Linked DNA regions of Homo sapiens. The protein of the gene in region 2 purifies or fractionates together with the protein of the main gene of each other region. This does not show direct contact. Each region holds a gene or a part of one and is shown on either strand. Other genes may lie near its edges.

What was found. The genes of interacting proteins can lie anywhere in the genome.
Region 1: the proteins of ITIH6 (region 2) and NHSL3 purify together in Homo sapiens (affinity purification with mass spectrometry; one large-scale study listed by BioGRID and IntAct). This does not show direct contact.

What each region holds. Positions count from the first base shown.
Region 1 is NC_000001.11:32,772,830-32,775,470, forward strand, and holds the end of NHSL3 (NHS-like protein 3), read left to right. Parts: intron 1-35; coding exon 36-58; 3' UTR 59-2,141; downstream 2,142-2,641. UniProt on the Homo sapiens protein: Able to directly activate the TNF-NFkappaB signaling pathway.
Region 2 is NC_000023.11:54,753,256-54,756,755, reverse strand, and holds part of ITIH6 (inter-alpha-trypsin inhibitor heavy chain H6 precursor), read left to right. Parts: intron 1-1,646; coding exon 1,647-1,739; intron 1,740-2,790; coding exon 2,791-2,826; intron 2,827-2,991; coding exon 2,992-3,105; intron 3,106-3,500.

The DNA of each region.
Region 1 (2,641 bases), on a different chromosome or scaffold from region 2:
CCCCTTGCTAAGTGTCTCTTATTTTTCTCCCCCAGACTCACAGAAAGAGCTGGCCTGACCACCAGGCACCTCACTGGCACTGCTGACCCATCCCAGAAACACAATCTCAGGGACCCGAGCAGCTCCAAGGACGAGAGGATACAGCAGACACAACCTAATAGAGAGGGCGCCTGCAGCCTTAACCTCCACGGCCTTCGATACTTATGCAAGCCTGGTGTTGCTCCTGTCCTCAGAGTCATCCTGCGCTCATGCCTTTTCCCGAATGGGTTCACCTCTGGCAGTTGCCGCTTCAGTCTTGGCCTTAGCCTCATCTTGAAGTGGGTAGCTGGCGGGAGAGGGTGGCTGCGCCCCCTGCTGGCCCTGAGGCTGCAGAGTTGGGAGCAGGACACCTCACCTGAGTTTCATTTTTTTTCATGTCCAAACCATGCACATACTATAGTCCAGAATCAAAGCACTTTTGAAAAGTGGCTGCATGGCCATCCTCCAGGGCCCAGGAAGTTGCATTCCAAGGGCCTGTTTACATGGCAGCAGAATCCATCCCCGGCAGTCAGCCCATAGCTTGGGACCAGTCTGTGCCCTCCTGCCCAGTCCAGTTTACTCCTCTTGGTTCCTGAAGGTGGCCAAGTCATTGTGTTCCCACAGGCTTCTCTAGGCTGGGGGCAGGTGTGGGGCTGTGGAATTCCAAAGCACAAAAGGTGCAGAGGGGATTGGCCTTCCTGTGCCTCAACTCACCAACCACCCTCCTGCCTTCCAGTTCTGCCAGGTGCTCCATGCTGGGGACAAGTAGGAGACTGCCAGGGCCCAAAGAAATGGGTGAGCAGTAGAGTCATCTCGGGGCACTTGGCAGTGTCAAGCACCTGCCCCTTGCCTCCTTGACCACACTGGGGTGGGTGGGCCCCCAGCACTTCAGAGGCAGGAGCCTTTGGGCTGAGCAAGCACTGAGGAGGTGGATGGAAGGGAGCATCTGGAGGGGGGGAGCTTCCTTGAGCAGTGGGCCCAGGCCTGGCCCTCCACACTTCATTCTCTGACCTTTCTCTCTCCTCATTTCGGTGCATGTCCTTTCTGCAGCTGCCTTTCAGCACAGGTGGTTCCACTGGGGGCAGCTAACGCTGAGTGACAAGGATGGGAAGCCACAGGTGCATTTTACTCAAGTCTTCTCTAGTCAATGAGGGGCACCCAGTGCTTCTAGGGCAGGCTGGGTGGTGGTCCCCTAGGTATCAGCCTCTCTTACTGTACTCTCCGGGAATGTTAACCTTTCTATTTTCAGCCTGTGCCACCTGTCTAGGCAAGCTGGCTTCCCCATTGGCCCCTGTGGGTCCACAGCAGCGTGGCTGCCCCCCAGGGCCACCGCTTCTTTCTTGATCCTCTTTCCTTAACAGTGACTTGGGCTTGAGTCTGGCAAGGAACCTTGCTTTTAGCTTCACCACCAAGGAGAGAGGTTGACATGACCTCCCCGCCCCCTCACCAAGGCTGGGAACAGAGGGGATGTGGTGAGAGCCAGGTTCCTCTGGCCCTCTCCAGGGTGTTTTCCACTAGTCACTACTGTCTTCTCCTTGTAGCTAATCAATCAATATTCTTCCCTTGCCTGTGGGCAGTGGAGAGTGCTGCTGGGTGTACGCTGCACCTGCCCACTGAGTTGGGGAAAGAGGATAATCAGTGAGCACTGTTCTGCTCAGAGCTCCTGATCTACCCCACCCCCTAGGATCCAGGACTGGGTCAAAGCTGCATGAAACCAGGCCCTGGCAGCAACCTGGGAATGGCTGGAGGTGGGAGAGAACCTGACTTCTCTTTCCCTCTCCCTCCTCCAACATTACTGGAACTCTATCCTGTTAGGATCTTCTGAGCTTGTTTCCCTGCTGGGTGGGACAGAGGACAAAGGAGAAGGGAGGGTCTAGAAGAGGCAGCCCTTCTTTGTCCTCTGGGGTAAATGAGCTTGACCTAGAGTAAATGGAGAGACCAAAAGCCTCTGATTTTTAATTTCCATAAAATGTTAGAAGTATATATATACATATATATATTTCTTTAAATTTTTGAGTCTTTGATATGTCTAAAAATCCATTCCCTCTGCCCTGAAGCCTGAGTGAGACACATGAAGAAAACTGTGTTTCATTTAAAGATGTTAATTAAATGATTGAAACTTGGCTGTGGCTACTGCTTCTTAATGTGGGGGGGACAGGGCAGTGGTCTGGGCCCACATTTAGAAGGGAAAATGTTTTGCCTGCTGCACACATTGGACCCAAGTATGGGCCTCTTCTGCCTAGTACTGCCAAAGGGACTGTTAAGGTGTCTTGTCCATCTTCTACCCCCCACCCCCCATTACAGGGTAAAGGAACCCCAGACTAGGTGAGGGGCCAGCAGCTGCCTCACACTTGTGTTCTCTCCTGAGATGGTCCAGCTCACATCCAGACACCCTTGTTCAGACATTTTATTTGAATTTATGACAGTGATGGGGATTTGACTGAGATGCCTTATGGAGAAGTACCCCACCCTCTATGAAGACAGAATCACTCTCTGCCATTCATTCTGCCTGATGCTAACAACACGCAGCTGATTTAGGGAGTGTCCCAGCCTAGCTGGATCAAGGGAAATTCCAGGAGCCCTGGGGCAGGCCCTGGCCCCCAGTGCCAAGCCTCAGAGTAAG
Region 2 (3,500 bases):
ATTAGAGGCCTTGGGAGAGGAGGAGTGTTGAGACTGGGAAGGCTGAACAGAAACAAATTGGCCAAGGGTTAGCTTTGACATTTGTTTTGTTGGACAAAAGAATTGCTGATGCTTCCTAAGCAGGGGAGGAATGCATCATTGGATGAGGCGGGTCTTATTGGTTTTTCTGTGCTCTGTGAATAGTCCTGCTTAATGACAGGGGTAGAAGAATTGGGGAAGATAATTAAAATTATCTTTAATTTCCAAAAAAAGTATGAAATAATAAGTTAACATTTGTGAGCTCTTCCTATGCACAAGTACTGCTCTACATACTGTACTTGTCCCTCATTTAATCCTCACAAGAAACATCTTTCTTTCTTGACATCGTCATTTTACACGTGAGGAGAATGAAGCACAGAGAGGTAAAATAAGTTTCTCAATGTCACACAGCTAGTCAGAGAGTTGAACTCATACAATCTGGTCACAGAATGAATGTGATTCACCACTCCAGTATCCTGCCTTCCTAAGAGAAGGAGTGACATTTCCTAGGTGACCTTATAGGGCAGGATTAGAACCCACTGAGAGTGCCTAAGTCACAGGGATGCAAATTTGGGTATGACATCCTCTACATGCCTCTCTCCTCAGACACCCCTCCAATATCCTATCCATCCTCAGTTATTGACAATGCTACCTCTAATATATTTACCAAATCCATCCACTTCCCACCACCCCAAGTGTCACTGTGCTACAGCAGACCACCATTGTGTCTCACCTAGAAAACTGTTCCAGGCTCCTCACTGGTTTCCCTGCTTCCTCTCCTGTCCTGTTACAGGCCAGTCTCTCCCAGCAGCCAAAGGGATCCTTTAAAGACACAAATCACTTCATGCCCCTTCCCTACTTAAAATCCCTCAAGGGTTTCCCATCGTACTTAGAATGAAGTTAAAAGTCCTCTTCATGGCCAGCAGGCTCTGCATGATCTGCTCCCTACCCCCATTCCTCTATGACCTCACTCTCTCCCACCCATTCTCTGAACTCCAGCCCCACTGGTCTCTATTTTGCCCCTCCAATGAACACCCTACCCCATCTCCACTCAGGGACTTTTTTCAAGCTACTGTCTCTGCTTCATAATCATCTGACCTGCTTTGTCCTACCCCTTCCTGCTGCCCTTATCCCTTCCATTGCCCTTCGAACTCCAGCTCATGCCTTAGATCTCAGCTCAGATCTCCTTACCCACCCTCCCCCAAGCAGGCTACTTCAGGTCTCTGTTTAACTCCCACAGTCACCTCATTATTTTTTTCCAATAGCATTTATCACCATTTGTGATAAATTATGATTTCATTCATGTCTGCCACCCCCTACTAAACTATGAGCTTCACCAGGTCAGAAACTATGTCTTTATTTTTCACCACCATATACCTAATACCTAAGCAATGCCTGAATGAATGAATGAATGAATGAATGGACAAATGAATGTATAAATGCTATAAGGAAGAACTTTGAACATATCTGAGCTTGAGAGATTAAGAGGCTGTGGAGAGCATAAGGTCCCAGTCCTGGAGATGGGCAGGTCAACCTGCAGAGCCAGTGAGGGCTCTCCTTGTCAGAAAGATTTTGAGACTTTGCCCCTGGAATTTGAAGGGTTTTCTTATTTCTTTTGTGCTTGGCAGGAAGTCCAAACTGGGATGGCAATTCTGAGGAGATCCTGGGAGGAGCTGGAGGCAGCATGGAATCTCAAGGAAGTTCTGTGGGGTTAGCAAAAGGTGAGCAAGGAGCTCTCCTGACAAAGATCCCCTGGGCCTTCATTTCCATTCCATTAGAATTCTTATTGACATTGTGGGAGACCAGAGGGAAGTAATGTATTAGTTTTCTATTGTTGTGTAACATTTATCACAAATTTAGTAGCTTAAAACAACACCAATTAATAATCTCACAGTTCTGTTAGTCAGTAGTCTAGAAATAGCTTAGTTAGATTCTCTGCTCAGGATCTCACAAGATTGAAATCAAGGTGTCTGTCACACTGAGCTCTCATCCTCTTCCACACTCATTCACGTTGTTAGCAGAATTTAGTTATTTGTGTTGCTGGGACTGAGGTTCCCATTTTCTTGCTGGCTGTTGGCTGGAGGATCGCTCTCAGCTGCAAGAGGTTACCTGGGGCCACTCTCAGTACCTAGAAATCTCCTGCATTCCTTGCCATGTGGTCCCCCTCCATCTTCAAAGGCAGCTATGGAGCATTCCCCTAATGCCAAACCCTTCTCACACTTTAAATTTCTCTGACTCCTCTGTCTCTGACCTCTAGATACAAATATTAAGGGCTTACGTGATTAGGTCAGGCCCCACCTGGATAATATACCCTTCATAAGTTCAATAGGGTCACATGAAATAACCTATTTCTGGGAGGATATTTCATCATATTCACAGCTCTGGAGATTTTACAGAGTGTGTACACCAAGAGATCCTGTGGGCCATCTTAGAATTCTACCTACCACAGGCAGAGAGCAAGAGAAAAGAGCATTTGGGCTGGCCTTGAAGGATAACTAGAAATTCATCCTTGGTAGTTAAGGGAAAGGAAAACATTCCAGGTGGCAGGAAAAACAGGAGTAAAGGGTCACTAGGAAGAGAAGGTAGGACACTCATAACAATAGTTTGGTTGGGCTAGAGCACAAAGACTGGAGAGCTAGGCAGGGACTAGATTTCAGAAAAGCCTTAAATGCTGAACACAGGAATTTGGCCCTTATCTGGGAGTATGTCCCAGAATTCCTAGGAATGTGATACATTAGTCCCTTCCCAACACAGTCTCTCTCTCCTTTGCAGGCACATTGCCTAGCATCTTCACCTTCTCCTCCTCAGGTAAGCCAGTCACCCCCATGGCTCCCCTGTTTGAGTACAGGGCAGCTTGTGCACTGGGACTGGGGCTGGGGAAATAGACATAACCTCTTCCCTTTCCCTCCTCTCTCTTTCCCTCTCCCTTCCATTTATTCCTTTAACTTTAGAGTTGTATCTTCTGCCTTGCAGTGGACGGGGACCCCCACTTTGTGATCCAAATCCCACACTCAGAAGAGAAGATCTGCTTCACACTGAATGGGCACCCTGGGGACTTGCTGCAGCTCATAGAGGACCCAAAGGCAGGTAAGAGCCCCAAGAACTCCATCACCATACACCAAAGCTGGATATATCCATGTCAATACCCCTAGACATTTGTGGGTTAATACCCCAGACACATAGCAATGCACCTCACTAACACACGGTAACACACAAGAACACACCAAGACACACAAAAAAACACACATGAATACACTCAAACACCAAGATACTCACAGATACACGCACAAAAGGGCATAGAGTAAACTCACACAAATATGATGGAACTTCAAAAAGTTTGTGGTAAAATGGAATTAAACGATAAAAAATTAAAAACATAAACATTGTTTCTCAACATAAGCTCCATCAAGTACAAGATAAGCAATGATAGCAGCCATTTAGTCCATCCCTAAAGAACTGAGGGTCCTGGGAATTTAACCATG